Linked DNA regions of Homo sapiens: region 2 is linked to region 1. Evidence: fine-mapped expression QTL. A gene starts in region 1. The other region holds a variant in brackets. All regions are shown on one strand. Distances are from middle to middle. Region 1 holds the start of CCDC184 (coiled-coil domain containing 184). Region 2 overlaps LOC102725258 (a long non-coding RNA gene).

Evidence for each region. PIP is the estimated chance that this variant, and not a neighbour inherited with it, causes the effect.
Region 2: its variant is the best candidate, but not a certain one, in a credible set for the expression of CCDC184 in whole blood (TOPMed, PIP 0.60).

What each region holds. Positions count from the first base shown.
Region 1 is chr12:48,174,357-48,190,533 of GRCh38, forward strand. CCDC184 (coiled-coil domain containing 184) reads left to right here and starts at 9,288. Exons shown (of 1, transcript NM_001013635.4): 1 at 9,288-11,570. The coding sequence starts at 9,767. The coding sequence ends at 10,351.
Region 2 is chr12:48,222,342-48,238,518 of GRCh38, forward strand. LOC102725258 (a long non-coding RNA gene) reads left to right here. Exons shown (of 3, transcript XR_001749122.3): 3 at 11,270-12,375. Among named protein-coding and RNA genes, the nearest start is that of OR10AD1, 27 kb to the left of the region's middle. The variant A/G (reference allele first, on the strand shown) is at 6,943.

The sequences.
Region 1 (16,177 bases):
CCCATGCACATCATAACCAAGTTGCTACAAACCAAGGATAAAGACAAAAATTCTAAAAGCAGCCAGATGAAAAAGATACATAGGCCAGGAGCAGTTGCTCATGCCTGTAATCCCAGCACTTTGGGAGGCCGAGGCAGGCAGATCACCTGAGGTCGGGAGTTTGAGACCAGCCTGACCCACATGGAGAAACCCCATCTCTACTAAAAATATAAAATTAGCTGGGCATGGTGGCGCATGCCTATAATTCCAGCTACTCAGGAGACTGAGGCAGGAGAATCGCTTGAACTCAGGAGGCAGAGGTTGCGATGAGCCGAGATCGTGCCATTGCACACCAGCCTGGGCAACAAGAGCGAAACTCCGTCTCAAAAAAAAAAAAAAAAAAAGAAAGAAAAAGACACATTATATATACAGCAGGGATTGGTAAACTATGACCCCTGGGTCAAATCTAGATCACTTCTTATTTCTGCAAAAAAAAGTTTTAGTGGAACACAGCCATACACACTCATTTATGTATTTGCTATGGCTGTTTCTGTGTTACAGTGGCAGAGTTGGTAGTTGCAACAGAGACCGTATGGCTTCCAAAGCCTAAAAGATTTACTATATGGATGTTTATGAAAGGTTTGCCATCCCTGATGTAGAGGAATAAATAAAAAATGCCAACAGATTTCTTATAAAAGCTATGTAAAGTGAAAGACAAGATTGAGCCAGAATTTTTTCTACCTCGCAAAAATGTCTTTCAAAAATAAAGGTGAAATAAAGATTTTTTTTATACCAACAAAGGTGAAATGAAAAGTTCTTCAGGCAAAAGAAAAATAATAACAAAAATTTGATCAATATAAAAAGATAGAGTGTGAAAAGTAATAAATATAAGTAAAATAGTTAAAACATTTTCTATTTATTTATTTAAAACAGAGTCTTGCTCTGTCACCCAGACTGGCATACAATGGTGCGATCACGGCTCACTGTAGCCTCGACCTCCCAGGCTCAAACAATCCTACTCCCTCAGCCTCCTTGGTAGCTGGCACTACAAGTGTGTGCCACCATGCCCGGCTAATTTTTGTATTTACGGGGTTTCACCATGTTGTCCAGGCTGGTCTTGAACTCCTGGGCTCCAATGATCCTCCCACCTTGGCCTTCCAAAGGGCTGGGATTGTAGATGTAAGCCACTGCACTCAACCTCTCACTTTTTAATCTCTTGAAAAAAAAATAAATGACTATTTAAAGTAGAAATAATAAAAATCCGGTTGGGTGTTAGCATACGTAGAAGCAATATGTATGACAAAAACAATAAAAAACATAAGGGAGAAACTGAAAGTAAATTGTTATAAGATTTTTACACTATCTAAAAGTAGACTATGATATGTTACAGGTGTATATTGTAAATCCTAGAGCTGCACTGTCCAATCTGCTAGCCTCTAGTCACATGTAGCAGAGGAATAGTCTTCCAGGCAGGAGATCGCAAGGGCCTGAGTATGGCATTGCTTGGGGAAATAGGGAGAAGAAAATGGATTAGAGAAGCATCTGAGGGTATTAAGAGACTGTGGTAATCTTTCTATTGTGAAAAACATGCAATCATTTCAGAATTCATTCAACTTTTGGTTTGGAGTTAAAATGTGGGAGGTAGAATTGCTGAAATAGCACAGAGCTGGTCTCAGGGATATGTAAAGCTGTTTTTTCCCAAGCTAAACTCAGACAAGTAAGACTGTCTTCTGGTTTTCAAGGCTTCCTGGAGAGGAAATGCAGGCTCGTTCCTCTCTCACACATCCATCACTCTCAAGTTCTTTAAGAAATCTAACCTAAATGCTTTATCCTGCATCTTGACCTCACAGTGGAAGTAGGAATAATGCTAGTTTGTCTCAGAGTTACAAATCCTTTGAGAAATTCTTTCTAGCTTTTCCTTCTCTCACATCTGTTGACTATTTGCTTTCTTCCATTAGGTCTTAGGTCTCAAATTACAGCAGTAAGTTTCAAATTACATCATCTCCATCTCTTAGAATCTTTCTCCACCATCTCTCCTTTCTAGGAAGAGACTCTCCCCTAACACACTAGTTTAAGTCCACAAGTATGAAGCAGAGGAGCTTATGTCCCACAGACCTCCCTGCAGTTTAAACTCAGTGATTTCAGTGTGAATAATGTGAAATTGTGAGCAGTTTATCATTTAATATACCTGGAGGTGTCTTGGATGATACTCATTGTTCTAATGAGCAGCAAAACTACTAATGCCTTTGGTAAGAGGGAATTGGTTTTTAATAGTATAAGAAGCAGCTGGAAGCCCATGTGTGCTATGGTGATGGATGAACTGGGATGAATGAGAGATTGGATATGTGACTCAGGATCATCCTCTGAGGAGAATCTATCCCAGTTTAACTCATTTGATCCAGGCAATTACCAGTAAACCTGACATACTGTTCCCTTCTGCGTCTTAGAGACACAGACAACACTGTGGAGAATAACAAGACCTTACCAAAAATGTCTCACTTAGGTTGTTTAGAGACTAACCTCAATTTCTGGAATATTATTTTTCTGATCCATGTTTGCTGTTTGGTTTTAATTTAGTTTTACTATCCTGGGAAGGCTGACCTTTATGTATTTTTTGTTATATATTTGATCAATATGGGGAGTTTTTGTCTGGTTTGGTTTTAGAACAGAAGCAAGGAAAGGAGGCAGCAAGGGACAAGAAGGACTCAATTTTATTACAGTAAAACATGTAACTCGGTGATAGCACTACCCTAAATCACCCTAGTCTACCAGTTTAGGAACACAAAGAGAAGACATACACAAGCTTTAAAGCATAGTAATCTCTATGTTCATAATGTCCCTTTCTCAGTTAGCTACTAATCTTACAACCAGAAACAGGGTACTTTTTCTGAGGCTGTCTCCACCAGAATAAGAATATAAATCAGGAGTTCTCCTTAGCATGCAGTATGAAGATACAGGCTTGATATCATCCCATTCCCGGGTAATGCTGAGGGGAGCAGAGAGCGTGCATTTCTTTGACCCTGAGTTCTGACAAAACTTGGCCCTGGTATCTTTGAGACTTCGATGGGGATAGTGGTGGAATATCCCAAGGGAGGTTAGAGGGGTGGTGACAGCTCTCATTTCAAAGCTGCAAGCACTTTTCTATTTTGTAAGAAATAGAGACTTCCATTTGTCTCTGAAGTAAGTATTCCTTTGTTCAAGAAAGGCCACCAACAGGGCCACTTAATAGTGTGACCATAAGCCATAGATTACCGAAGTAGATGGTTGAAACTGAAAAAGCTAAAATGTTCTCGAAGAAAAGGCAGAGTTGGAGCTTTGCAGACTACATGTCCTTAAGGGAGTTGTTTCTTTTTCTAGGTATGGATTTAGACTTCATTCATTCATCTATTCAACACATATTTATTGAGCATCTGCCATGTGCCAGGCACTATTCTAGGTGCTACAGATAAGGCAGTGAAGAAAACAAACCCCCTGCTCTAATGGATCTTACACCCTAGTTGGGAGTAAAAGATAAATAAATAAGACATAAAATAAATAAACAAAAATACAGGATAACAGATATTGATAACTGGTGTGGAGAAGAATAAAGCAAAGCAAAAGGATTAGAGTTCCAGCATGAAAGTGATCCTGGTGCTTTAAAACAAACAAAAGAGCAGGCATTGTGCCTATGAACTGTGAACGAGTGGTCAACCGTAGAAGATGGAGCTATTTTTATGCAAGACTTCTTAAAATAGGGGCCTCGGGGTTCTAGGTGGAAAAGTTGGGGGAAAGGGTCCTTCTCCTCACTTTTGCCTAAGATCCAGCACTTCTACAGTACTTTGAAGACATGGATTACATTTTGGGGCCCCTGTCCATGGTATCATCACAAATACTAGTATAGTCTCCATCTGTGTTTGGGCAATGGAAACAGAATGCACCCTCACAGTGGCTGCTAAACTGTAACTGATAGTGCCTCGCTGGCCCTTGAGAATGTGGTAGAAATAACTTTTGACATTATTTGGGGGGGCCTCTGAGAGGGATGGACTTAGTATAACTAGATGTATTAGTAACAGGGAGACCTACAAAGTTTTGTAGAATTGCGTAGGATAGAATAGCACAGACTTCCTCAAGATATGACAGGCAAGGAAGGTCCTGGAAGTTTGCATAAGTCAGCTATGAGGGACATTAAATTCCTAAAAATACCTTTAATAGAAGGGAAGTTTATGGCACACATATCATAGTCCCTATCCTACCATAGATATTTGGACATGATTTCCTTCAAATTGGACTGATACTGTGGGAGAGGCAATTGGTCAAACAAAATTGCCTCCATTGAACTAGAAATTGGTTTTTCAGGTGGTGCAGCACTGTCAGTGCCTGACTTGGGGCCAAACCAGGCTCTAAGCTGTTGCAAAAATGGCAACTTTCTGGGGGCAAAATAATTTATGGAAAAGATGGAAGGTGCTTGAGACCATGCACCAGGGATCATTGGTGGTTCTGGAGTTCTGAATGCTTCTGTGTCCATGGCCAGCTACCTAGAGACTTGGGTTGGAACTGGTGACATCACAGTGATACTGAATACATGTTTGAATATGCACTGAGAGGGGGAAAAGGCTCTGCAAGTGTTGATCTAAGAGAAGCTGCTGCAGGGGGCAGTGCAGAAAGGGGAGATGGGATGACACTGGCAAAACAGGTTTAATTGGAATGGGGGGTTATTGTCAGTGGAGATTCATATTGCATGAGAAGTTGGAAGGTCCCCTAGAATTCTTGCTCTGAGTTAAATTAATATGGAAGAGAAATAAGAGGTTAGGGGTAGCCTTAAAGACTCCTAAAAATAGTTTGAAGTCACAGAGCAAGCAACTGGAAGTGTAGTTCAGGCCTTACGTGAGGTGTGGGTAGGTGGCTCACCACACGGCCATGTCTATGACACTAAATAATCTTGAGGGTGTGGACAGTTGGATCCCCTCTCCAGTTAGAGGCTCATAAGGGCCCAGGGTCTTTGCAAACCACCATGTCCATTTCTCTGTGCAAACGTCGGGGAGATGAACAAAGCAGATTGGCTGTAATGCCAGGTAAACCACTCTCTGGTGCTGAGAAAAACTAGCCTATGTGACAGGCAAAACCCACAACAATGCGAATATTCTCAGCCTCTCCATCTTTTTTATCCTCTGAGAAGACCCCTGTAATTGATAGCTGGGATTCCCAGTACTTATGCAGATTGGGGGAATGAGGAACAGAATCAAAAGAGCTAAAATAAGCTTGGCCTGATTTATGTGAGGACAGGAAGCTTCTTGGAGGAGAGAAAAAGAATACATCCAAGAAGTGAAGAGAGCCAGGGAGTGAGAAAGCAAGGGCCAGGCTTGAGAGAAAGTGTGGGAGTGTTTGGGGAGAGAGAGACCAGCAGCAACAGCTATGCCATAATGTGTGGAACAAATAGAGAAGGAAGGAAGACAAGTTTCAGATGTTTCGCTGTGCACTAAGAATGTAAACCCCTTTAAAGTTTGCCCAGAGACTGTAATAAAAATCTAAATTTCTTTTTAATTCTTTTGGCTATTGGATATGTTTGAGTGTGATATCAAGCTGTGATGGGCCACAAAACAGGTCAGCTTCATGAAAGTTATATTTGGGGGATACTGTCTGGGATTTGGCGCCTAAGGTACAGCAGTCAGCTATATCTTGTTTTAAATCATTGCTCTAGACCTGAGTCTAGCCAGCATCATCGGATTTATAGTGCAAAAAATACACCAGCTATAGAAAATAGAAACTAGAGATACACGAGACACCAGACAGAGGAAAATGGCAGAGCCTCTTCCAAATCCCAATTTTAGTGAGAATATGAGGTTTGAAACTAGGTGTACCTGATGGAAACCTATATGTAGATAGCATGAGGGTCTCTCCCTATCACAGATTGATAAGAGTGGGATGAAGAGAATAGCTAAGGGGATTCCCAGAGGATAATAGAAAAGCAGGAAGCAGAAGCTGTGCGGGGGTTATATTCTCTTATTATGTGGCAGTTCCTCTGAATATTCTAGTAGGATGGCTGGGGTATACATCTGGCCACCTTTTGCTTGGAAATGGACCCATGCAACTAACTATAGGGCATTGGGATCCAGAGGGCCCAGGCCTGTAACCCATCTAGCTGACTGAGGCTCTGCCTCTGTTCTCCTTATTCTCCTTATTTTCCTGAGACTAGACTTTTCTACCTCATCTCATTTTCACACAGAGTTCCTGAAATGATCTGGTTTTCTATCAGATGCACCAATGTCTCCTTCCTATATTTTCTTTTTCTTTTCTTTTCTCTTTTCTTTTCTTTTCCTTCCCCTTCCCCTTCCCTTTCCCTTTCTTTCTCTTTCTTTCTTTCCTTCTTTCTTTTCTTTCTTTCTTTCTTTCTTTTCTTTCTTTTTCTTTCTTTCTTTTTCTTTCTTTCTTTTCTCTCTCTCTCTCTCTCTCTTTCTTTCTTTCGACTAAGTCTTGCTCTGTCACCCAGGCTGGAGTGCAGTGGCACAATCTTGGCTCACTGCAACCTCTGCCTCCTGGGTTTGAGCGACTGTCCTGCCTCAGCCTCTGGAGTAGCTGGGATTACAGGTGCCCACCACCATGCCCAGCTAATTTTTGTGTTTTTAGTACAGACAGGGCTTCACCATGTTGACCAGGCTGATCTCAAACTACTGATCTTAAGTGATCCACCCACCTCAGCCTCCCACAATGCTGGGATTACAGGCATGAGCCACCGCACCCAGCCACCTTCCTATATTTTCAAATCCTGCTACTGGTCCACTCCCCCAGTTCCCACCTACCCTTGGCTCTCAAATGTTTGACCTGGAACTTGACTGGACCAGCCAAACTGCTTGATCTCTGCACATGTTTCCCATGGCCTTTTGTGCTTCTCCAATAATTTCCCCTCCCTCTGGGCTCAGATCCCTTGTACTCTCAGTGGACTTCATGGCCAGCACCTCTGGACAGCATGATGTAATCTTATGCTGAAAGCCTTCACATCCTCAAGAATAGTGGCAAAAGGCCTTGTATGATGACATACCATAGCTCCTCCTGTATGGGGGCTATGCTTAGTGTAAGCTTATGGGATTTCAACAATGAGAGGTCCCCCACTGGGACAGAGTCACTCTTTGTAGGTAGAAGGTAGGGATATACCTGAAGGGTGAATTGGCAAGATGAAATCTTCCATGTGAAGTGCTTGTCAAGAGATGTAAAGTAACAGACCTAGACAGAAAGTCTGAAAGCCATGCCAGTCTTTTCTGGCTATAGCAGAGCTCTCCTCGGAAGGATGAAAGCAGGGTTGGACCTATAAGCCCTGAGAACATGCTTGCTGTAGTATAATCAGAAACTTATGCTGTGTAAGCTCAGCTGTTTTCATGTGTTCTGTTTCTATTTCTAGTTTTCCTATAGTTTTTAATAAAGTCTCTTTGTAAACACCAGCCCACTTCAGCTGTGCTTATGGAAACCAAGGAAAAGCATTTCTGTCCTCTCTTGAGCCAGAGTTTCAGGAGTAATCTAAGGTGTTATTACCACGTGTGGGGTACAGAGCAGAGGTAGGAGTCCTAAGCAAGGTGAGAGTGCTGGAAATCTGTAGAATGAAGGAAGAAATGAGCAAGCAAATAGAATTGAATCATTAGTTTCAGAAAATACAATACTGTGTTTTTAAAATTTGTTCATATATTTGTTTTGGGAAATCAAATTTTTAATGGCTGCATAATACTTTATGTATCAGCAATTTTGCCTTAGTTTATTTAAACATTCTGCTGCTGGTCATTTAGGATAGTCCCCACTTGTTTCTATTTTAAAAGCAGTAAGATTGGTATAGGTCAAGCAGTCCTCTAGTGTCACAAAACTTTCCCTGGGCCAGCCTCACTCTTCATCACCAAGCACATAACCAGGGAAACCCAAAGGTAACACATTTGCTGTCACTGAACCGCCAGTCTACAAAACACTCACCTTTACGTAGTTCTTCTCTATCTTGAAGTGATATAGTTTGTTTCTCTTTCCCAGATTTATTCTTATGAACTTCATTTTTGGCTTCCGATCACTTGGCTTCCCTAATTTCCTAGGGTCATTATTAATTATTGTGCTCTGCCCAGGTGCTGATTCCTTCTCAATCTGCAATCATCTACGTATATTAAAGACAATTTTTCTTCTTCCTCCACCCTTCCTGCTCCACCCCTTAAATAGGGAAAGGGCTTGTCACAAAGGTTGGGGATACTCAGTGTATGTCTGAACTTGGGCACTGAAAGAGAGAGCGGGAATTACTCTAACACACAGTCCCCCCATCCATACCCTCCACACAACGGTCAACAGTTTACCTTTTCACCTGTGAGATGATGCAGACTGTTATTCAGAATTAGAAATAGTATTATAGATTATCCAGTCCAATTCCCTAACAGATGAGGAAAATGATGTGGCCAAGGTCGCTGAATGAATAAGTGGCAGAAACGAAACTGAATTCAGGTCTCCTAAAACCCACTACGTTTGGCTTGGGGAGTTCTGGATGAGAGCGTGGGACTTGGTGGTTTTTGTTATTCATTCAATAACTATATTAAGCATCTACATACTAGGTGCCAGGCACTATTTTAGGAGCTGGGGATTCCGTGATGGAGGGTGCAGGGGAGACAAAAATCTCTCCCCTTATGGAGCTTTCATTCTCAAAACTTAAGCACTTGGCCTCCCCATCTGGGACAAACTCCCAGAGACCTGCGTAGGAGCGGTAGGGTCTCATAAAGGAGGGAGTCCCATCCTTCCCCCGCTCCGGTGATTTCTATAGCTAGAGGGCTGATTTACTGCAGAAACCTCCGTAGCGCCCTCCTCCTGCCTCTGCACCGTCAGGCCCGGTGGGTCCGGCTCCAGAGCGCCACCGTGCCCCAGCTCAACTCTGGGATCATTAGCAACAGCCTCTCTACCCTCTCCGCTTTCCTGCGCATCGCTGGAGGACAGGGAGGCAGGACTCGACTTTAGCGCCATCCTCTGAGAAAGGAATGCGGGCTGGAAAAATCTTTCCAGGGCAGTCTCGCTGGGTCTCATACCCCGGCTAGGGGAGGGACGATCTCTCCCGGACTTGGAGGTTTCTGCAGCAGACGGCTCTCTCATACTTCCCTATTAAACATTGCGACCACACGCTCTTTCCAGCCTTGGCCGAAGCCACTGTAGCGTCCCCTCTCCTCCCCCCACCCCGCTAGTCCAGACTCCAGAGCCCCACTGCAGCTTCCAGCCATCCTCCCTTTTTCTTCGCCACTTCCTGGTTACCATGGAGACACACGTCATTTACGTGCCGTGCGTCGCCTTGGAAACAGAGGAGCATCCGCGACACCCCCGGGAGACCCACCCCAGCTGCTGCTGCCACACTCGCGGGCGCTGCCCGGTAATGGCCTGGGGGAGTCCCGAGTCCGACGCGCCGCTGGCCTCAGCCTGGACGCGGACCCCTCCGCGAGCGCGTCTGTGACCCACGGAACCGGCAGGCGCTCTCTGCTTGTGGCGCCCAGAGGGCGGCGCTGACACGGGCGCGATCCGGGAGGCGAGGCAGGGCAGGGCACTTTCGTCCCGGGGCGATCCCAAGAGACGCCGGCTCTGGGACCCTCGCCGGGTCCTCGTCCCGCAGCCTCTTCTCGGCCTCCCGCGATCCTGCCTGCGCCCTCTGCCCAGGACTCGTCTCTCACGTCGGCTCCCCGCCAGTCTCGGGAGCCTCCGCTTCCCTCGGCTCCCGCTAGCCCCTCCCGGGACCTCTCCCCCTCCACCCCCTCCCCCACCCCGGAGGCCGGGCTGGACGCGACCCAGAGCCTCCGCCACCCGCTTCTGCCACTCAATGGAGGACGGTCTGCTGGAGATCATGACCAAGGACGGCGGCGACATGCCGGCGCCCCTGGAGGTGTCCACCGTGCCGGCAGTGGGGGACGTGATCTCCGGGGAGTACAACGGCGGCATGAAGGAACTGATGGAGCACCTGAAAGCCCAGCTGCAAGCCCTGTTTGAGGACGTGAGGGCCATGAGGGGGGCCCTGGACGAGCAGGCCTCGCACATCCAGGTGCTCTCGGACGACGTGTGCGCCAACCAGCGAGCCATCGTCTCCATGTGCCAGATTATGACCACTGCGCCCCGCCAGGGCGGCTTGGGCGTGGTCGGCGGCAAGGGGAGCTTCCAGAGCGACCCCCAAGAGCCGGAGACTCCTTCGCCTGGGATCGGGGACAGCGGCTTGCTGGGTCGCGATCCCGAGGACGAGGAGGAAGAGGAAGAAGAGAAGGAGATGCCCAGCCCCGCCACACCCTCCAGTCACTGTGAGCGCCCCGAAAGCCCCTGTGCTGGTCTCCTTGGGGGGGACGGGCCACTTGTGGAGCCCCTCGACATGCCCGACATTACCCTGCTGCAACTGGAGGGCGAGGCCTCCCTGTGAGGGGACTCCGTGGGGCACTACCTTCCCGGGCTGTCTTTGGGTTTCCGAGTGCATGACGCGAGGGGGACTGAACGGCGCGGTGCGGCATGCTTCACTTGGACAGCTGCTCTTGTGGGTCAGGCAGAGAGAGACTCCCTCGAGGAAGGATTTGTAGGGTGAAGGACTTTGGGAGCATCGAGAATTCTTTCTGCCCAACTAAGCGAATTATAGCGAACTGCGGAAAGGTGAGGCTCCGGGAGAGGAAGCGCCCATCTCTGGACTCCCATCCATCCCTATCCTGTCCTTTCCCCCTTCCCAGACAACAGGAGAACCCGTGAATTGTGTAAATAAAATTCTGCTTTTTCTATTCTGAAAAAGGACTTACCTAGGACCATGGCAAATAATCTCTAACAATTTACCTGGAAATTAAGGAATTGGGGGTATTTTGTTCTGGCAACAGGAAATTTACCCTTCTGCTGAAATCCAAGATATTCAGTGCTCTGCAGAAGCCTCTCCCCCTCACAGATCTCTGCGGCTGCTGATTGGTAAAGGAAGCTTGAGGAGGGAACTGCAGCCCTAGGAATCTGGGTGAATGGGGTTCCAAGGGCCCCTGGGCTGGGAGGAGCTGGCTATGAATGTGCATGAAGACATAATAGCTCAACCTCTAGGATTTTGCATGCAGAGCGGATCCTGCCTTGTCACTGACTTCATCTGGGATTGCTTTTCCACTCCCTGGGGCTTAGAGAACAAAGAGCCCGGTTCACAGGCAGAGACTCGGGGGTGCTCAGCAGCAGCCCAGATTTAGGGGACATTTGAGGGACTCTTGGGGCCGCAGCCAAAAACTGTCTCTCCTGGCTACACCTGCTTAACTTCAGTTCCTTTTTCTGTCAATATGTCCTTGCCCACTGCCTCTCGGTGTTGCCTTCATAATGTCTTGTGTGTGTTATGTGTGTCTACTTGTGTAGTAGTGTGTGAGCCCTCAGGGGCAGGGCTTGTGGCTCTGGTGTTAGGTTCAGGGGCTTCAGACCCTTCTACGAGCTCCAAGCTATCAATGGCGCTTTTCTCTCCCTCTTCCCCCAACCAGGGCATGGAGCATGTGGCTGTCCTGAGGTTCTTTTACTGATGTGCCGCCCTTCCACCTCCTCAAGTGGTGACTTTGTGTGCCCTCCCCCTCCTTTGTGTATTCCTTCTCAATGCTTTCCTTGGTGTTAACCTTAATAAAAAGGCGTCATCTCCCCTCCTTGCTGACTGGTACTAAGGGGATATCAGGGTGGGTCTTAGTGGGAACTGCAGGGGCCATGCCTTCCCTCCTCTCTCCTTGCCTCCAGTTCAAGGAGTTGACTGTCCCTGCCCTGGTTGGGACAGGCATTGCCAACTCTCCCTGCTTTCCCTTCTGTCCTGGACCTTGACCTCAAGCTGCCCTGGGGAAGGAGGTGGTAAGTGTTGAGACTCCCATGCTAACATGAGTTTTTAGTAGCCAGAACTCCAAATGTGCAGGAGACTTCTTTTTCAGTGAAGCATCCCAGTGAAGCCCTGGGAAATGATTTCCAAATCTGGGTCCTGGAATGGCAGATACTGCACCTGTTCCATGGAGGGAGTGGGGTGGGGGTATTGTTCTGGAGGGATTGCCTGGGATCTCTGGAAATAGTGACACATCACAAAGGGAAACCACAATAACTGCCTCAGGCCTCTAGTGGAGAACCCGGGTAAGGTGTTCCCCAGAGGGCTTGACTGACAGCTCTAGTCTACTCCCTTGGGCAATGGAGATTTCTTGAGGCTGCCCCTGAACAAAATTTGAGAGCAGAATGAGCTAGGGTGCCGTGTGTATATGTGCATGTGTGTGTGTATATGTGCGTGTGTGTGTGTGTGTGTGTGTGTGTGTGTGCGCTAGCTGCTGGTAGCTGCAGAGTGGTGGAAAGAGAGAGCACTAAAGACTTAAATCTCAGTTCTAACAGTTGAGTGCTTGAGGCTTAGTTTCTGGATATGTAAAATGGGGACAAGAAGTTGTTGGGGAGAAAAATATATAGGACTCCTAGGAAGTCTTGTGCAAATGTTAGTTTCCTTATAGTTTTATTGGAGTAGGGGGTGGTGGTGACTGGCTCCTCTGGGAAAACAAAGCTACCCAGGGAAGGTTCTAGAAACTTTCTTTTTATATAATCTTTTCCTATCTGAAGAATCCTTGAGGCCGGGCGCAGTGGCTCACACCTGTAATCCCAGCACTTTGGGAGGCCAAGGCAGGCTGATCACCTGTGGTTGGGAGTTCGAGCCCAGCCTGACCAACATGGAGGAACCCCATCTCTACTAAAAATACAAAATTAGCCAGGCGTGGTGGCACATGCCTGTAATCCCAGCTACTCGGGAGGCTGAGGCAGGAGAATCACTTGAACCCGGGAGGTGGAGGTTGTGGTGAGCCAAGATTGTGCCATTGAACTCCAGCCTGGGCATCAAGAGCGAAACTTTGTTTCAAAAAAAAAAACCCTTATTCTTCTTTAGAATTAGATATTAGTTGTTCTATCTAATTCTACTTATCTGATTCTATCTACAGAATTCTAGTTATTTAGAATTAGACGGGACTAAGGAAAGGGGAATGGTGAGATTCCTAAGCTAGCATGGACCTTTTCATCATAAATGAAAGGGTCATCATGAATGTCATGTAACTATGGGCCAAAAAGGTCTTGGGGGACAGCCAGACCTGAACACATAGGCTGGCCAGAGGAATCTTGAGTTATGCAGTGATTGGGGAATGTGTGCTGGGGGCCCTAGAGAGAGCTGCTAAAGTATATAAGTGGGAAAGTGTCCCTGAGGACTGGGAGATAGGTTCCTATTATAGTTCCAGCAGTAGGCACTAAGAAAAACAGTAACTATCATTGATTGAGCATCTACTATGTGCCAGACACTGTACCTAATTTTATCTCCCAACAGCCCTATGAACTAGGCACTATTATTATTTTCATATAACAGACTCTAAGATGCTCAGGGTCACAGGCTAGTACTTGGCAGAGCCAGGACTTAAACCCAGATCTGTCTGACTTAAAAAGCCCTAGATGGAAACCACTTTGCTAACTGCTCTCTTATTTGGATCTTCAGAGAGCGATCTTCAGTTTGGAGAAATAAGGGTATCGAAGCCTAATCCAATCCTGAAAAGGAAATAACCTTAGTTTTGGTTACTTTTCATCTTCTTAGTTGGAACAAGAAATTGCAGTTCAGATTTTGGTTAGTGACCCTTCCCAGAGTCCAGTGGGTGGTAATATAATAACAGCACCAAGAAGATGGCCTCCTGAACCTGTTCCTTAAGAGGAAGAAGCCGATGCTCCCAGGTGTTCTCTCACACAGCTCCATTCTTGTGCCTCTTTCCTGTTCCCTATATCTCAGATTCTCCAGAGTCTGACATGAATCCCAAGGGCACCTTAGGGTGGGCGCGGTGGCTCACACTTGTCATCCCAGCTACTTGGGGGACTGACGTAGGAGGATCACTTGGGCCTAGGAGATTGAGGTTGCAGTGAGCCATGATTGTGTCACTGCACTCCAGCCTGGGCAACAGAGTGAGACCATGTCTCAAAAAAAGCCAAGGGCAGTTTAGCTCTTTAGCCTCTGTAGAACGTTCTGGCAGAGTCTTTTAGCCTTTGACTCCAGTTCCCCTTCTTATGCCCACTGTCCTCAGTCCCTTAGGGCCTCTTTGAAGTTCTTTAACCATTGCCCCCTCAAGTCCCAGATAGATAAAAATCTCTCCAGAAAAAGCAATGCTTCAACCTTATTCAGTCACCTGCGCCCAGCATCTCACAACGATCCAGCACAGATAGGAGGTCCTTGTTTCTCCCTATTCCCCACTCTCCTCTTGCATTTCTCATTTGTAATGCCTCCCGACCTCTTCTCTTCTCTGATGAGTGAGTTTCAGCTGGGATTCCTAAGCGCAGACTCATGGGCAAGGGTCACAACTGAACTTCAGAGGGCCACAACCCCTTGAAATTGAATGCAAAGTCATTACGTATGTACATTCTCTAGAGAAATGTACATTGTTTCAACTTTATTCTTAAAAAGTAAGAATTAAGTTAAAAAAAAGGTAAGAATCACTGAGATAAAGGGCAATGAGACTTTTTAACTTGAGAAATACCCAAGGGGAAATGACTTTTCCCTAACCTGGTACTCTTGGCATCCTTTCCTCCAGAGTTTTCCACACTGAATTGAATTTTTTTACATAAATCTGATTACTCATCACCTATTCAACACATTCAAATTCTGTTGACACTCATGATGTTCTAAAAATCCTGTCTCCCAATACTTCCGAGTCTGCTAGTACTTGGAGTTTGCTGGAGCATTGCTGATGTTGTGGAGGTGAGGAAATAGCCCCTGCCATGGCTTTATACCATTTTATGTCTGGGGCCAACACACGCTGTGCTGCGTGTAACTCATCACAACTCTTTCAGTTTCTGGCACTCCCGTCTCACACTAGTTTAAGGGGCCTCTCTCAGGATTTAGCTCCTATTCTCAAGATGAAAACATGTATAGCTTCATAGAAGTAAGCTACAATTTTATCCTGGTATGGCTAAAATCTGCTCTTAGAGAAATTGTTATTTCCCTAAGAGATGTAAGCTGGCCTCCAACATGAACACTCAGTTTTACATGATCTCAGGATCACCATAAATGATAGTCTCTGTTTGATATGTATGATGAAATGGCTCACCTAGTAGTTTTCCCAGAACTAAGGAATAGTCCTTACCCAAATATATTTAGGTGTATACTTCTTGCAAGACATAAAATTGCTTGCATCTTTGAAAAGGCAGGTTTTCAGAAGCATCTTCCTCGTTTGTATGCCTTGAAGAAGAAATTCAGCCAGGATACCTTGGTATGGTAAGAAATATTTTTGAACAAAAGACATGTTTTTGAATCTTTTACTCTAGCTACCATTTCCCCTCACATTTAGACTGTCCCCAGAAAGTGAATTCTCTTTCTGCTTGGAAGCACTGTGCTTATAGAAGCAACCCTGCTCTGTAAATAATGCTGTAATGGTGCCACCTGTCGGGAAATAGGGACATTACAAGGGGAGCCTCAGGGAATTTATGGCTTTCACTTCAACAAGCACTATCAGATGCCTGCTAAAGTCCTGGCTCTCTGTCAAATGGTGGGTGGCAAGGAGAGAAGAGAAAGTAAATAAATAGAATGTATATGAAGAATGTAAAAAACAACTGCAATATACTCCTGACTTGTCTCCCCTGGCCTTGCTCACATACCTTTCATCCGAAGGTTAATCTTCCTAAACCAGAGCTCTGAACATTCATTCTTCTCGAAATCTGTGTGTCCCTAGTGCTTCTTAAACTAAGTTTAAAATCCAGTGGGCGTGGGGAGTCAAGGTCCTCCCTAATTAGGCCCGGAATATTTTTTAACCTATATATTTCATTTCTCAACTACATCTTCTAGACACCATCCCACCAGGTAAGAAGCCCATATCATCCCAGTCAAAGCTGGAAATGATTCCCAGGGGTATCCCAGTTTCTTTAATCCCTGAGTGAGCCATCTAAATGAGCGCCCTCTGGCCTCAATTCCGTATCTCTCAGTCATGCTTCCCAAGTGCAGTCAGATGCACATCTCCTCCAGAAAAAGGACTTCTGCAGCCTGGGCCACCTGCACCAGCCTCTCAGAGGTGTTCCCCACCTCCCCTTGCCCCTTTTCCCTCTCTCACGCTGTGAATGGGAAATCCCCAGAAATAGCATGTAAAACTTTTTGACTATGAATTTGTGCTTTTATTTCAAGGAATAGGGTTCATAATTTTCATCAAATTATTAATGAAGCCTGTAAAGTCAGAAAGGGTAACTAACTCTAGTTAAAATGTGCATGCTACTCACCATTTCC
Region 2 (16,177 bases), 48 kb after region 1:
GGTCTTGCTTTGTTGCCCAGGGTGGAGTGCAGTGGCATGATCATGGCTTACTGTAGCCTTGACCTCCCGAGCTCAAGCTATCCTCCCACATCAGCCTCCTGAGTAGCTGGGACTACAGGCTTGCACCACCACGCCCCGATAATTTTTTGTATTTTTTGTAGAGACAGAGTTTTGCCATGTTGCCTAGGCTGGTCTTGAACTCCTGGACTCAAACGATCCTCCCATCTCAGCCTCCCAAAGTGTCTAGATTACAGGCATGAGTCACTCACTTTACCAGTTCTTTCCTCAGCTACATCAGCTATTGCTTTGCTTTGCTTCTTTCTTTCTTTTTCTTTCTTTCTTTTTCTGTCTCTCTCTCCCTCCCTCCCTTCCTCCCTCTTTCTTTCTTTCTTTCTTTTTTTTTTTTGAGACAGAGTCTCGCTCTGTCACCCAGGCAGGAGTGCAATGGCATGATCTTGGCTCATTGCAACCTCTGCCTCCCGGGTTCAAGCGATTCTCCTGCCTCAGCCTCCCGAGTAGCTGGGTCCGCCACCACTCCTAGCTAATTTTTGTATTTTTAGTAGAGGCAGGTTTCACCATGTTGGCCAGTCTGGTCTCAAACTCCTGACCTGAGGTGATCCACCAGCCTCGGCCACCCAAAGTGCTGGGATTACAGGCGTGAACCACCACGCCTGGCGACATCAGCTATTTCTAATGTGGCTAAATACATAGTGAATGCTCCTGGATCTTGGCTCTAAAATTCTTCACTGCATTTTTAGTTCTTTAATGCCTTTATTGTAGATATTTTAAAATGTGTCAAGCTTTTGGTTGTTTTTGTTGAGATGGTTGATCCAAATTACCTTGTCTATAAATATCAGAAGCAGAAGCCCCCCTTATAATTCAGTCTGCAACATCTGTGCCCCTTTCATTTTTAATATTGTTTATTTAAGTCTGTTTTTTTATAACATAAATCATGCCAGAGAACTGTCAAAGTATTAATTTCTTCGACCTTTATTAGTTTAATCAATCTTTGAATTTTGTTCAATCCATCTATTATGTGCATTTTTTCTTCCTTTCCCTTTCCTTGCATAATGTATTTTATTCTGTGATTAAGTTGTTTGCTAATTTTTAAAATTTTAACTTCTTTTAAGAGAAAGTTCTGCCCTAATTACTGCCCTAGTTATATTCCACAAAATTATATGTAGTTTCATTGTTATTTTGGGTTTCACAAATTTTTCTAATTTTTATTATCGTTCTTTTGCTGAAAGCCAAACATGGATGTTTACAGGTTTTCCATTTAGAAGAGAGAATTTACTTTGTCTGTGTAACCTCAATGAATAAGACTGGAACCAAAGAGAAGAAACATCAGAGAAAAATATTGACTGGTTTTTCTAATTAAAATGCACCAATTATAGCTGACTCCAGATTAGGGAATATACTACAAGCCCAGTTGGGAGAAAGGAAAGAGGATAGAAATCCATTTTTATTTGAATGGATCACTGGGGCCAATTGCACTCCACCTACTTTACAGCCAAAAAGAGCTCATTCATTTGATAGGGGAGTGCCTGTTATGTTGTCAGTATTGTGCTATGTGGCCAGGATACAAAATGACACATGGAAACTCTCTCCCTTCCCTCATTGGTATTCTCCTACATCCCAAGTCATTCTTATATCAGGAAGATAAGTAAGAATATAGAGAACCCATGATATATAGACATTACTACAGAAAAGGATATGTTTATCAGTAGAAATATTTTAAAATCTATCATCTCCAAATAGGGAATATACCTTCTTGTGAAGGGTCGTGGAACATTTACAAAATACTACTGTTGACATATTAGACTATAAAGAAAACTGAATTCCAAAGAGCCAAAACAGTTCAGACCATATTCACTACACTAAAACTAGACATTAAAATTCTGTTTATTTCTTAAATTTTCTTAAACATTTCTTAAACTTCTGTTTATTTTCTCCCCTTGAGATATGAGGAAAGGAGAGCAGGTATCAGCTTGTGCATGGGATTTTCCTTAAGAATATTCTTTCATGTTTTTCTTTTCACTGCAAGAAAACAAATAAATTCATATGGAATATTTTAAATTTAGAATGTGTTATTTTGATTAAGTAAATTGTAGATAACATTCTTCTGGTCAACCAGCTGTGTCATGCAGTCTGTGCACTGCATAGAGGCTCCTGAAGGGAAGAATAGATGCTGAAATCTGGCCTGCACTCAACTGACCAAGCTGTGTATCCTGGCGAGGGGCTGTGTGAATTCAGAAGAAGTGGTGCCTTTGTGTATGTTCATTGCAGCACTATTCACAATAGCAAAGACATGTAATCAACCTAAATGCCCATCAGTGATAAACTGGATAAAGAAAATGTGGTACATATACACCATGGAATACTATGCAGCCATAAAAAGGAGCAAGATCACGTCCTTTGTAGGGACATGGATGGAGTTGGAAGCCGTTATCCTCAACAAACTAATGCAGGAACAGAAAACCAAACACTGCCTGTTCTCACTTATAATTGGGAGCTGAATGATGAGAACACATGGACACACAGAGGGGAACAACACACACTGGGGCCCATTGGGGACTGGGGGGAGGGAGAGCATCAGGAAGAATAGCTAATGGTTGCTTGGCTTAAATACCTAGGTGATGGGATGATCTGTGCAGAAAACTACCATGGCACATCTTTACCTATGTAACAAGCCTGCACATCCTGCACATGAACCCCTCAACTTAAAATAAAAGTTGAAGGAAAAAAAAGCTGTGCCTTTTTTCTAATTCTTCCCTGAGAGGGAGTGACTTTTTATAATTAGCCTAAAGTTTCCATATGTGTTAGAGAAGCCTTGCTGGCTAGGAAGTTCTGGACATGAGACTATTTAAATTTCAGCATTTAGAAGTTTTTGTCTCATAAGATTGATGAAGTCTTTAAATAGTAATAAAAAAGCCTATGTTACTCTAAGTGGGTTCTAGCAACAAAAAGGCAATAAGGCATTTCCTTGAATGCAACGATACTCAAAGTGTGGCCTACAGACCACCAGGAGCAGCATCACCTGGGAGTTTGATAGAGATGCAAACTGTTGAGGTTCATCCCAAATCTAGGGAATCATGAACTCCAGGGATGGGGCTCAGAAATCAGTGTTTTAAAAAACCCTCCATGGTATTCTGATGCACATAAAATGTTGAAAAACAGTGGTTTAACGCAGAGGTGGACAAACCATGGCCCTCAGGCCAAATATAGCCCACTGCCAATTTTTATGAAGTTTAACTGGAATGCAGCCACACCCACTGATTCAAGTATTGTCTATGGTTGTTTCCCACTACAACAGCAGGGCTAAGTAGTTGCCACAGAGACCATATGGCTTATAAGTAGGGTGGCCAGATTTATCAAATAAAAATATAAGTCACCCAGTTGAATTTGAGTTTGAGATAAACAATAAACAATTTTTTATTATGAGTATGTCCCATATGCAATATCAGTAACCCAGCACACGAAATCTATAATACTTACTATCTGGCCTTTCATAGAACAAATTTGCTGACCCTTGCCTACCATAATGACCTTACAGTGAACTTGCTTCTGACAGAGCATGGAAGGAAGCAATGAAAAAAGCCTCACTCCTGGTTGCACACCTGGGATTCTGTACCTGACGGACACCATCCATCCTTTTAGATGATGCATTGAGTCCTAACTATTCCCTTCCCAAGAAAGTTCAAGCCAGGAGATCAATCTGCTTGGGATGGAAAGGTATCTGGTGCCAGTTCTTCTGTTTATAAAACTCAATAGATCAGTTACTTTTCCTATTGTTTAAGTGTCTAGTGTTAAACATATTCAATTAAGTTTTACCAAGGAGATGTTTTCGAAGGATTGTTCAACCAATTCAGAAGTGATTCCGTGACAATAATAAAACTGACATTACCTACTTGAAAATTGAAAAACTAAGAAGCCATCCAAAAACAACTCTTATATTAAGCAGGAACTCAAAACAATTGTAAGTGATCTTAAAAAATTCAGATAAAAGTATTATATATTAACGAATACTGTACACAGATATTTATTGGAGGAAAATTTAATAGCCTGAAATACTTCTATTACTTAACGAAAAGAATAAGGATAAATGAACTTAAATGACACAAAACAAAATGAAATTGCCAAAGAGATTAGAAGCAGATAAACAAAATTAACAAAGGGAAGACCAGAAGCAGAAAATTTGTAAAGATCAAAGCAGAAATTGTTGAGTAAGAAAACAGAAAAAGGGTTGTATGTTTTCAGTAATTTATCTATCTCCTCTAGGTTTTCTAGTTTATGCGTGTAAAGGTGTTCATAGTAGTCTTGAACAATCTTTTTTATTTTTGTGGTGTTGGTTGTAATATTTCCCATTTTGTTTCTAATTGAGCTTATTTGGATCTTCTCTCTTTTCTTGGTTAATTTTGCTAATGGTCCATCAATTTTATTTATATTGTCAAAGAAACAGCTATTTGTTTCATTTATCTTCTGTATTTTTTTTGTTTCAATTTCACTTTGTTCTGCTCTGATCTTTGTTATTTCTTTTCTTCTGCTGGGTTTGGGTTTGATTTGTTCTTGTTTCTGTAGTTCCTTGAGGTATGACCTTAGATTGTCTATTTGTACTTTTTCAGACTTTTTGATGTAGGCATTTAAGGCTATGAACTTTCCTCTTAGCACAGCCTTTGCTGTATCCCAGAGGTTTTGATAGGTTGTGTCACTATTACCGTTGAGTTCAAAGAATTTTCAAATTTCCATTTGGATTTCATTGTTGACTCAATGATCATTCAGGAGCAGGTTATTTAATTTCCATGTATTTGCATGATTTCAAAGGTTCCTTTGGAGTTGATTTCTGATTTTTTCCACTGTGTTCTGAGAGAGTACTTGATATAATTTCAGTTTTCTTAAATTTATTGGGACTTGTTTTGTGACTATCATATGGTCTGTCTTGGAGAAAGTTCCATGTGCTCATGAATAGGATGTATATTCTGTGACTATTGGGTAGAATGTTCTGTAAATATCTGTTAAGTCCATTTGTTCTAGTGCATAGATTAAATCCACTGTTTCGTTGTTGACTTTCTAGCTTAAATCAAGAATAATTAGAAACCCTGAACAGAACAATAACAAGCAGCAAGATTGAAATGGTAATACAAAAGTTACCAAGGAAAAAAAAGTCCAGGACCAGATGTATTCACGGCTAAATTCTATCAGACATTCAAAGAATTGGTAACAATCCAATTGACATTATTCCACAAGGTAGAGAAAGAGGGAATCCTTCCTAAATTATTCTATGAAGCCACTATCACCCTAATACCAAAACCAGGAAAGGACATGACAAAAAAGAAAACTACAGACCAATATCCCTGATGAACACAGATGCAAAAATTCTTAACAAAATACTAGCTAACTGAATCCAACAGCATATCAAAAAGATAATCCAGCATGATCGAGTGGGTTGCATGCCAGGGATGCAGGGATGGTTTAACATACACAAGTCAATAAATGTGATATGCCGCATAAACAGAATTAAAAACAAAAATCACATGATCATCTCAATAGATGCAGAAGAAGCATTTGACAAAATCCAGCGTCTCTTTATGATTAAAACCTTCAGCAAAATTGGCATACCAGGGACATACCTCAATGTAATAAAAGCCATCTATGACAAACTCACAGCCAACATAATACTGAATGGGGAAAAGTGGAAAGCATTCCCTCTGAGAACTGGAACAAGACAAGGATGCCCACTCTCACCACTTCTATTCAACATAGTACTGGAAGTCCTAGCCAGAGCAATCAGACAAGAGAAGGAAATAAAGGGCATCCAAATTGGTAAAGAGTCAAACTGTCGCTGTTTGCTGATGATATGATCATATGCCTAGAAAACCCTAAAAACTCATCCAGAAAGCTCCTAGAACTTATAAATAAATTCAGCAAAGTTTTAAGATACAAAATTAATGTATACAAATCAGTAGCTCTGCTATACACCAGCAGCAACCAAACTGAGAATCAAATTAAGAACTCAACCCCTTTTACAATAGCCACAAAACAAACAAACAAACTTAGGAATATACCTAACCAAGGAGGTGAAAGACCTCTACAAGGAAAACTACAAAACACTGCTGAAAGAAATCATAGACACCACAAACAAATGGAAACACATCTCATGCTCACGGATGGGTAAAATCAATTATTGTGAAAATGACCATTCTGCCAAAGGCAATCTACAAATTCAATGCAATTCCCATCAAAATATCATCATCATTCTTCACAGAACTAGAAAAAAAATCCTAAAATTCATATGGAACCAAATAAGAGCCCAAATAGCCAAAGCAAGCCTAAGCAAAAAGAACAAATCTGGAGGCATCACATTACTGATTTCAAACTATACTATAAGGCTATAGTCACCAAAACAGTATGGTACTGGTATAAAAATAGGCACATCAACCAATAGAACAGAATAGAGAATCCAGAAATAAACCCAAATACATACAGCCAACTGATCGTTGACAAAGCAAACAAAAACATAAAATGGGGAAAGGACACTCTTTTCAACAAATGGTGCTGGGATAATTGGCTAGCCACATGTATGAGAATGAAATTGGATCCCCGTCTCTCACCTTATACAAAAATCAACTCAAGATGAATGAAGGACTTAAATCTAAGACCTGAAACTATAAAAGTTCTAGCAGATAACATTGGACAAACACTCCTAGAGATTGGTTTAGGCAAATACTTCATGACCAAGAACCCAAAAGCAAATGCAACAAAAACAAAGATGAATAGCTCAGACTTACTAAAGAGCTTTTCCACAGCAAAAGGAAGAATCAGCAGAGTAAACAGACAACCCACAGAGTGAGAGAAAATCTTCATAATAATACATCTGACAAAGGGCTAATATCCAGAATCTATAAAGAACTCAAGCAAATTAGCAGGAAAAAATCAAACAGTCCC[A/G]TAAAAAAGTTGGCTTAAAAGAAGATATACAAATGGCCAAAAAATATGAAAAACTGCTCAACATCACCAATGATCAGAAAAATGCAAATCAAAACCACAGTGTGATACCACCTTACTCCTGCAAGAATAGCCATAATCAAAAAATCAAAAAAGAATAGATGTTGGCATGGATGCTGTGAAAAGGGAACACTTCTACACTGCTGGTGGGAATGTAAACTAGTACAACCTATGGAAAACAGCATGGAGATTCCTTAAAGAACTAATAGTAGAACTGCCATTTGATCCAGCAATCCCACTATTGGGTATCTACCCAGAGGAAAAGAAGTCATTATACAAAAAAGATACTTGCACACACATGTTTATAGCAGCACAATTCGTAATTTCAAGAATATGGAACCAGCCCAAAGGTCCCTCATTCAATGAGTGGATGAAGAAGTTGTGAGATATATATACATATATATACGTATATATATATGTATATATATGTGTATATATATACGTATATATGTATATATATGTGTATATATATACGTATATATACTTATATATGTATGTATATGTGTATATATACGTATATATACTTATATATGTATGTATATGTGTATATATACATATATACGTATATATATACACATATACATATATATATATATATATATAAAATGGAATACTACTCAGTCATAAAAAGGATTGAATTAATGGCATTCATAGCAACCTGGATGGAACTGGAGACTATTATTCTAAGTAAAGTAACTCAGGAATGGAAAACCACACATTGTATGTCCTGAGTCATAAATGGGAGCTAAGCTATGAGGATGCAAAGGCATAAGAATGATACAATAGACTTAGGGTACTCAGAGGAAAGAGTGGGTGGGGGTGAGGTATAAAAGACTACAAATAAGTGCAGTGTATCCTGCTCAGGTGATGAGTGCATCAAAATCTCACAAATCACTACTAAAGAACTTACTCATGTAACCAAGTACCACCTGTTCCCCCAAAACCTGTGGAAATAAAAAAATTAAAAAAAACAAACCAGAAATAGAATAGAATCAGTAAATGAATTCAAGAATTGGTCCTAGGAAAAAGCCAATAAACGCCGGGCATGGTGGCTCACACCTGTAATCCCAGCACTTTGGGAGGCCAAGGTGGGCGGATCACCTGAGGTTGGGAGTTTGAGACCAGCCTGACCAACATGGAGAAACCCCATCTCTCCTAAAAACACAAAATTAGCCGGGTGTGGTGGCACATACCTGTAATCCCAGCTACTCAGGAGGCTGAGGCAGGAGAATCGCTTGAACCCTGGAGGCGGAGGTTGCGATGAGCCAAGATCGCGCCATTGCACTCCAGCCTGGGCAACAAGAGAGAAACTCCGTCTCAAAAAAAAAAAAGCCAATAAAATAGACAAACTACTGTCTATCTAATAATTAAAAATGAAGTGGTAGAAAGAGAGCAAAAATACACAAATTTTAAAAGGTGAAATAATCACAGCCACAAAGAAAATAAAAATAATTATGCAACAGTACTTTGCAAGACTCTATGGCAATCACTTTGAAAGCCAGAAAGAAGTAGGTAATTTTCTGGGTTAATATGAATCAATAAAATTTGTTGAATGAAAGATAGAAACAAAATTAAATATACTGAGTGAAATGAATGTAATGCAGTAGTTCTGAACCTTGGCTTTACATTGTGGTCACTTGGAGAGCTTTTAAATATCCCCATCCCTAGGATGCATACCAGACCAATTAAAATAACATATTGGAGCTGGGCATGGTGGCACATACCTGCAGACTCAGCTACTCAAGAGGCTGAAGGGAGAGGATCACTTGAGCCTGAGAGTTCAAGGCTGCAGTGAGTTATGATTGCACCACTGCACTCCAGCCTGGGCAACAGAATAAGACCCCTTCTGTGAAAAAAAAAAAAAAAAAAAAAAAAAAACCAGGAAAGAAACACTCAGGTATTAATATTTGAAGAAAATCTAATTGACAATAATTATATATTTATAGAAAACAATGTGATGTTTTGATATGTTAGCAAAATGATTAAATCAAGCTAATTAATGTATCTACCACATCACATAGGCAACAGTATTATTTATTTATTTATTTATTTATTTATTTATTTATTTATTTATTTTTACTTTTTAAACTTTCATTTTAAGATCAGGGGTACCTGTGCGGGTTTGTGACACTGGTAAACTTGTGTCATGCGGGTTTCTTGTACAGATTATTTCATCACCCAGGTATTAAGCCTAGTACCCATAAGTTATTTTTCCTGATCCTCTCCTTCCTCCCACCCTCCACTCTCCATCCTCTAATAGGCCCCAGCATGTGTTGTTCCCCTCTATATATCCATGAGTTCTCATATTTAGCACCCACTTATAAGTGAACACATGTGATATTTGTTTTTATGTTCCTGTGTTAGTTTTCTAAGGATAGTGGCCCCTAGCTCCATTCATGTCCCTGCAAAGGACATGATCTCATTCTTTTTTATGGCTGCATAGTATTCCATGGTATATATGTACCACATTTTCTTTATCCAGTCTATCAGTGATGGGCATTTATGTTGATTCCATGTCTTTGCTATTGCAAACAGTGTTGCAGTGAACATACATGTGCATGTGTCTTTATGATAGAATTATTTATATTCCTTTGGGTATATACCCAGTATCTGTCTTTAGGTCTTTGAGGAATCACCACACTGTCTTTCACAATAGCATCAGTATTTTTTAAAAGCTCCCCAGGTGATTTCAATGTGCAACCAACTTTGAGAGCCATTCAGATAGAGGAAGTTAACAAAAGGCTATGCCTCAAAATAGCTTCAGGCCCCGATAGCTCCATAGGTAAATTTTAAATCTTGTAGCAATCGGATATTTTCAAGGCTAATGAAACTGTTTGCAAGGACAGAAAAAATAAGGATCGCTGATTACTTTCACAAAGTCATCAAACCATTGAGACTAAAACTTGAAAAATTATACAAAAGAAAATTATAACTAAGGTGATTTATTAATAATGGTGAAATAGACTAAATTATTAGCAAATGGAATTCAGCAGTGCATTCAAAGAATAGTACATCATGACCAGGTGAAATTCATTTGAGGGATTAAAGGTTCTTCTAATAGGGGGAATCCCACTAATACAACTCACTATATTAATATTTCAAAGATGAAAAACTTCTAATCAATTATATAGATGTTTAAAAGGCATTTGATAAAATTTGATGTTGATACCCAGTTCTTAAAATTTTTTTAGTAAAATAGGACTAGAAGGATGCTTCCATGTCATAATTAAAACTAAATTAACATAACTAATCTAAATCAAAGTAATTACATACTGTGTGTTAGGTATTGTTTGTTCTGTATGTGTTATTAGTAGTAATCGTTTTAAGCTTCACAGTAATCCTATGAGGTAGGAGTTCTTCTTTTATCCTCATTTTACAGATACAAAGAAAGGGTCAGTAACTTGTCCAAGGTATACAGTAAGTGGTAAAGCTCAAATTTAAACCTCAGGAGTCTGATTCCAGAAGCTGCATTGTCAACTAACTCTCCACACTGCTTTGAGCTTTTGGGTGCCCTGCAAGTACTAGCCAAAAGCATTTAGACAAATGAATTAAATGAGTGGTGTGCTGGTTAAGTGTTTAACAAATGGCTCTGGGTGGGGGGTACCTTATTTGTAGCATTTGCCAATTTTCATGGTATAAACAATTCCACAATGACTTATTTCAAATTACCCATGAGACACCACTAATCATGGAGCTGGGAAGAGATATGTTAGGTTGCTATTATACGGCTTTCCTACCATACGGATACAATAGACATAAATAATCTTGAGAGTATAGATAATAGTAAAATATAGTGACAAAATTAGGAAGTGATGATGAATTTTAAGTATTTATTACCTTCGTTTTAAAATATTAATAATGGCTATGTTTAACAATCAATTTTCAAAACTCTTGAAATTTAACAATTGGCTCTTGAGAGCTGGTACCAGCTGGCTCCACTACATCACTTGGAATGAAAATGAACAGGCAAAATTATTATTTGAAGATGACATTTCTGGGAATAGGGTGCATTTCTGCCCCTCTCTTCATGTCTCTGCCTCAGCCTGTAGGGAGGCCAGAATTTCTACCTAAACTTTTTCCATTAGGAGGAAATAACAGGTAACAATTCTGACCCTACTGTTCATCTTTGCCCTAGAAGTAGTCTTCATATCCCTCAGATTGGGCACTGGTTACATATATCATGGCATGTACACAAAATGGGACAATTTTTTTGGAAATCTTGTCTTACCTCCTTCTATTGCTCTGACTGGGAATGATCTGTTTGTTGCAGAATCACTGCAGCAGGTGCGAGAGAGGACTCATGGAGCTTGCAGATGAGCTAGCCCAGGTAGGACATCTGATGTTGGGACCCTCTTCAGAAGTGAAGCATATATAATCCCACATGAAATCTCTCAAGCCATTCCAGAAGAATGTTTTCTCAGATAAAGGTTATTTACCTATTTATAATAATTTATAATTTACAAAGCATATTCATATATATGATCCCATCTAACTCATAAAATTATATGAAATGTATACTATCTCCATTTTACAGATGGGGAAATTGAGCCTCAGAGTGATAAAGTAACTTCCCCAAAGTCATGTAGCTAGTAAATGAAAGTGATGAGACTCACACTAGGTTCTTCTAAGTTTTTAGAGTACTTCGTCCACGGCGCCAAGGTGTCTAGGGCAGAGACACCACAACCTCCTAAGGTAGGTTATGCCATTAATGTTCCACTTGGGTGGGAATACACACACACCCACACACACACTATAATTCACACTTCCTTATAGTTATATTCCTCATTCTTTGAACTTAATCCATGGTAAAGAATTATTTATTATGGTGGGGTAGAAGGAGACCCTTTGAGATTTGAAGACACTGATTAACCATGTTAGTGTTTTTCCTCAGGCAAAATATTCATGGGCTCTTTTACCATAACTTGCTGTCCTTATTTCCTCATTAAATTTCAAGTTTCCACAAAATAAGAAAAGAAACAACTAAAGAAGAAATTGTTGGAAGGCATGGAGCAAAGTGTAAGAACAACTAAGTAAACATGTACATTTTGCATTTTTAAAAAATTCAGTGGCCATAATACCACTGGCCAACAGGCTGATCAAATAATCCCTGAAACAAAGAGTTATATGTTACGGAGGGGATTGAATCAGAATACAGAAAAGAGAGACTTGAGAGGTTAAGACAAAACATCCTGGGAAATACACCTATTAAAATATGGTAACTAGCTGTTCTCCATTTCTTTCAAGACAGAATGGGAAATGGAGGTAAACACAGCAAGAGTATTAGTCGGTTAGACAACAGGAATATTTTGCTGATTTTTGTTGTTGTTGTTTTGTTTTTGTTTTTGTTTTTGAGACAGTGTCTTGCTGCGACACCCAGGCTGGAGTGCAATGGCATAATCTCGGCTCACTGCAACCTCCGCTTCCCGGGTTCAAACAATTCTTCTGCCTTAGCCTCCCTAGTAGCTGGGACTACAGGTGTGCACCACCACACCTGGCTAATTTTTTTTTTTATATATATTTTTAATAGAGATGGGATTTTATCATATTGGCCAGGCTGGTCTCAAACTCCTGACCTCAAGTGATCTGCCTGCCTAGCCTCCGAAAGTGCTGGGATTACAGGCGTAAGCCATTGCTCCTGGCCTTTGCTGATTTTAATGAGGGATTTGAAAGCATCAAAATGACTGAACAAAGGAGCAGTGAAAAATCTTTCCTGGGGTCTTTGGAAAAAAAACAGATTCCAGTGTGTCAGATCTTTCAAGGCAAGATGGTCCAAGAGCAACGAATGGACAGTTGCCTTCATGTCCTTCTGTGTTTTCTTTCTTGTTTAACAGCATCAAGGTACATCCACTCATTTAAGTGGGAGCCTGAATGTCATCGTCCACTCACTCATCTCCATAGCCCTTCATGTTCTTATTTAAAACCTCCTTCACCCTTCCCATGTATCCTACAATCCAGTTACTATTTACCATACACAAACCCATCCATTTGTCTTTACTTTCTATAACCTCATATTAGAAGTGATGATGTATTTGTTCATTCAGTTTTTATTTGGTGCTATGATGTGTTCTCCTCTCCCTGCCTCCATGTTTTTAACACTTGCTTTTTCTATGGAATGTTCTTTGACTCTATGGGCACCTGGTGAATTCTTTCTCGTCTTTTGTGATGCGGATCATATGCTATCTTCTCAAGAAAGCCTTCCCCCCCAAACCTAGCATTTTCCCCTTTCTTTTAGAGAAAGCAGCTTTATTTTTTTAGAGGCAATCTCTTTTATCTGCATATTTGCGCTTTGGGCCACAAGTGTCGTGGACAGTTTATACAAGGTCCAAAAAATAATAAGAAGAATTAAATTGGCTTTGTAACAGATGATTCTGGGCAAGAGACCAATACTGAGAGATTTAACAATTTTATCATGAATTAGCTAAGAAATAAATACTAACTATAACAGAACTAATTTAAAAAACTAGAAATAATATAAAATAATGAAACCACCTTTGCAAAAATTGTAACAGTGAGAAAATTATGACAGTGAAAGAGATCTGACCTAAGTGACTCCATCTTGCTTCCAACCTCCAACCTGTCCTCGTTCATTCCTGGGCATAGGCCAAACTAACTTTGGGAGGAACTTAGTTTATAGTTTCAACTTTGAAACAAAGATGATAACAGCTCTTTCCTGAAACAAACCCTCTTCTTGCTTTATAGGACTAACAAATTAGCCACAAGTTTAGAAATTATGGTTTAGGAGTTAGGCAGCGAGAGGTCACAGATTCCAAACCTCCCCATTTACAATAGGGATGACATCACTATTGTAAAATCTAAGATTGGTGCTCAGAATATTTTTCAGACCCTGAACTTGATGGGTCAGCTGCCACCACGCAGATGGATAAAGTGGCTTATCTGGTACTGTGGCCCCCACTCAGGAACTGACTCAGCGCAAAGAAGACAGCTTCAACTCCCTATGATTTCATCTCCAATGGGACCAATCATCACTCCCCAGTCCCTGGCCTCCTATGCACCAAATTATCCTTAAAAAACCCCAGTCTCTTAATTGTCAGTCTCTCCAATCTCTGAATTTCCAGAAAGAGTTTAATTCATGCAGAGGCAGCTGAACTGATTTGAGTATGAATTAAACTCTTTCTCTATTGCAATTCCTCTGTCTTGATGAATCGGCTTTATCTGGGCAGTGGGCACAATGAATCCTTGGGCGGTTACAATAAAACTGAAAATAGATAAAAACTGTGTGTGGCAAGATTTAGATCTATAAATTTTGACCTTGGAAAATAGAACTCCATAAAAATAATGCCCCCAAAATAAAACTCACAGTAGTAGAAGCTGTTATAGTAAAATTTGAATTGAACAAAAGACTGTTAAAACAGGACTGTGTTGATAAGTTACACATAAATGAATTCATCCGGATCAAAATAATTTTAGTATTTTTACTCATGACATTGTATTCATGTTTATTTATGACAACATAAATAGTAATTTTATTCACATGACAAAATTGGAAATACTTTAAGTGTGCTATGTAGAAAACTAATCAAGGAATTAATTTGGGTTAATGAAATTAATTGTTAAAAGTAATTTCTTGTCAACAACTTTTGTTGCTGGTATAATTGTTACATGCCAGGTTCTGGTCTGTTCTACCTTCAAGCAGTAAATCAATCACTATGATTCAGGTTTTGCAAAAGAGAAAAGATTTATTCGAAAGGACACCCAGCGAGGAGGCGGTGGGAGAACAGCTCTCAAATCTGCCTCCCCAAAGATAAAGCTTAAGGGTATTTATGGGTTAGGGAAGTGAGGTGGTCTAAGGTGTGGGGAAAGGTGGTTGCTAGTGGGGAAAAATGAAGTAACAGGTTCATTCTGCAACAGCCTAGCTGGAGTTTGTGGCATTCCACAGCACATATGTACAGAAAATGGCAGCATTAGCATGGACTGAGGATGGAGTCTTTGGCCCTCCAACATAAAAAGGCCGCCTCTCCAGCACTTGAGCAGACCCAGTTAAAAGGTCAGTGGTCTCAACCAGTTTGAACTGGACAGAAGCAGGTCCAAGTTTCTGAAAAACAACTGAAGTAACCGTTACCATGGTGACCTGTGAATGTTATCTATAAAGTAGCTGGTGAAGGTTACGTTTCAGCATTCAGTGGCATGCCCTTCAGTGATTGCAGACTTCAACTTCAGGGAGAGATAAAAAATAACAAAAAGCAAGCAACCAAAAGCAAGCAGGACAGGCAGACCTGACCAAACTAACCCCTCAGTTTTATAATTCTAATTTTAATGTTTGTATTCATTAACACAGAATCACAGCACTCCCAGGACAAAAGTGAGGGTAAAAAAACTACAAAATAGTAATAGCAGGACAAAAACATCTACTGTTGCTCCAGCACAGAGTAAGCTTTTGATTAATGATTTTTGAGAAAGGAAATGAATATTTAAACAATGTGATGTTTGTTAATCACTTTCTAACTATAAGCCCACTAACTAAAATCTGCCTGAAATTCACTTATCAAATCTGCAATATTTAATGCAAGATTAGATTGATTGTTTTAATCCTCTGAAAGTTTTGCATTACTTTGGATACTTTCCCCTTTCTGTTAGTTTTCTTTTGAGCATTTCAAGGAGTTTTAAATTCCAATTTATCTATGGATCCTTCTGCCTTAATTTCAAGCAAACAAGCAAATTATATACTATAATTCAGGAAATGAGAGTGTTCAGTGTAAGTCAATCATACAGAGAAAAAAGGCAACTTTTTCTTCAAGATTAGAGAAACCACTATCATAACATTTAATATTTCTCCATCATTTCATTGATCCTTCTGCAAAGGAAGAGAACTTTGAGACATAAATCCATCTCTTTCCTTTCTTGGTTTTATGGAAGCAACTAGATGCTTGCTTCACACCATAATGCTAAGTACAAGTAGTATAAAAATTTGAATATATAAAAAACTCACTAAAAAACCTGGAAGGAAATATAATTAAATACTGATCTAAAATTTTGAATGGAGAACTTCTGAGGCAAAAGTGATAAGTTATGAGCCCTCTGTCCCACCCCAATGTTTTATTAAGCCTGCAGTGTTTCCTTTGAAGGATGTTGTATGTAATAATCTGGATTCTGGAAAAATTCAGATCTTGCCACAGTGGGCCTATTCTTATCAACAACAAATTGGAATTTAGTGGTGTTC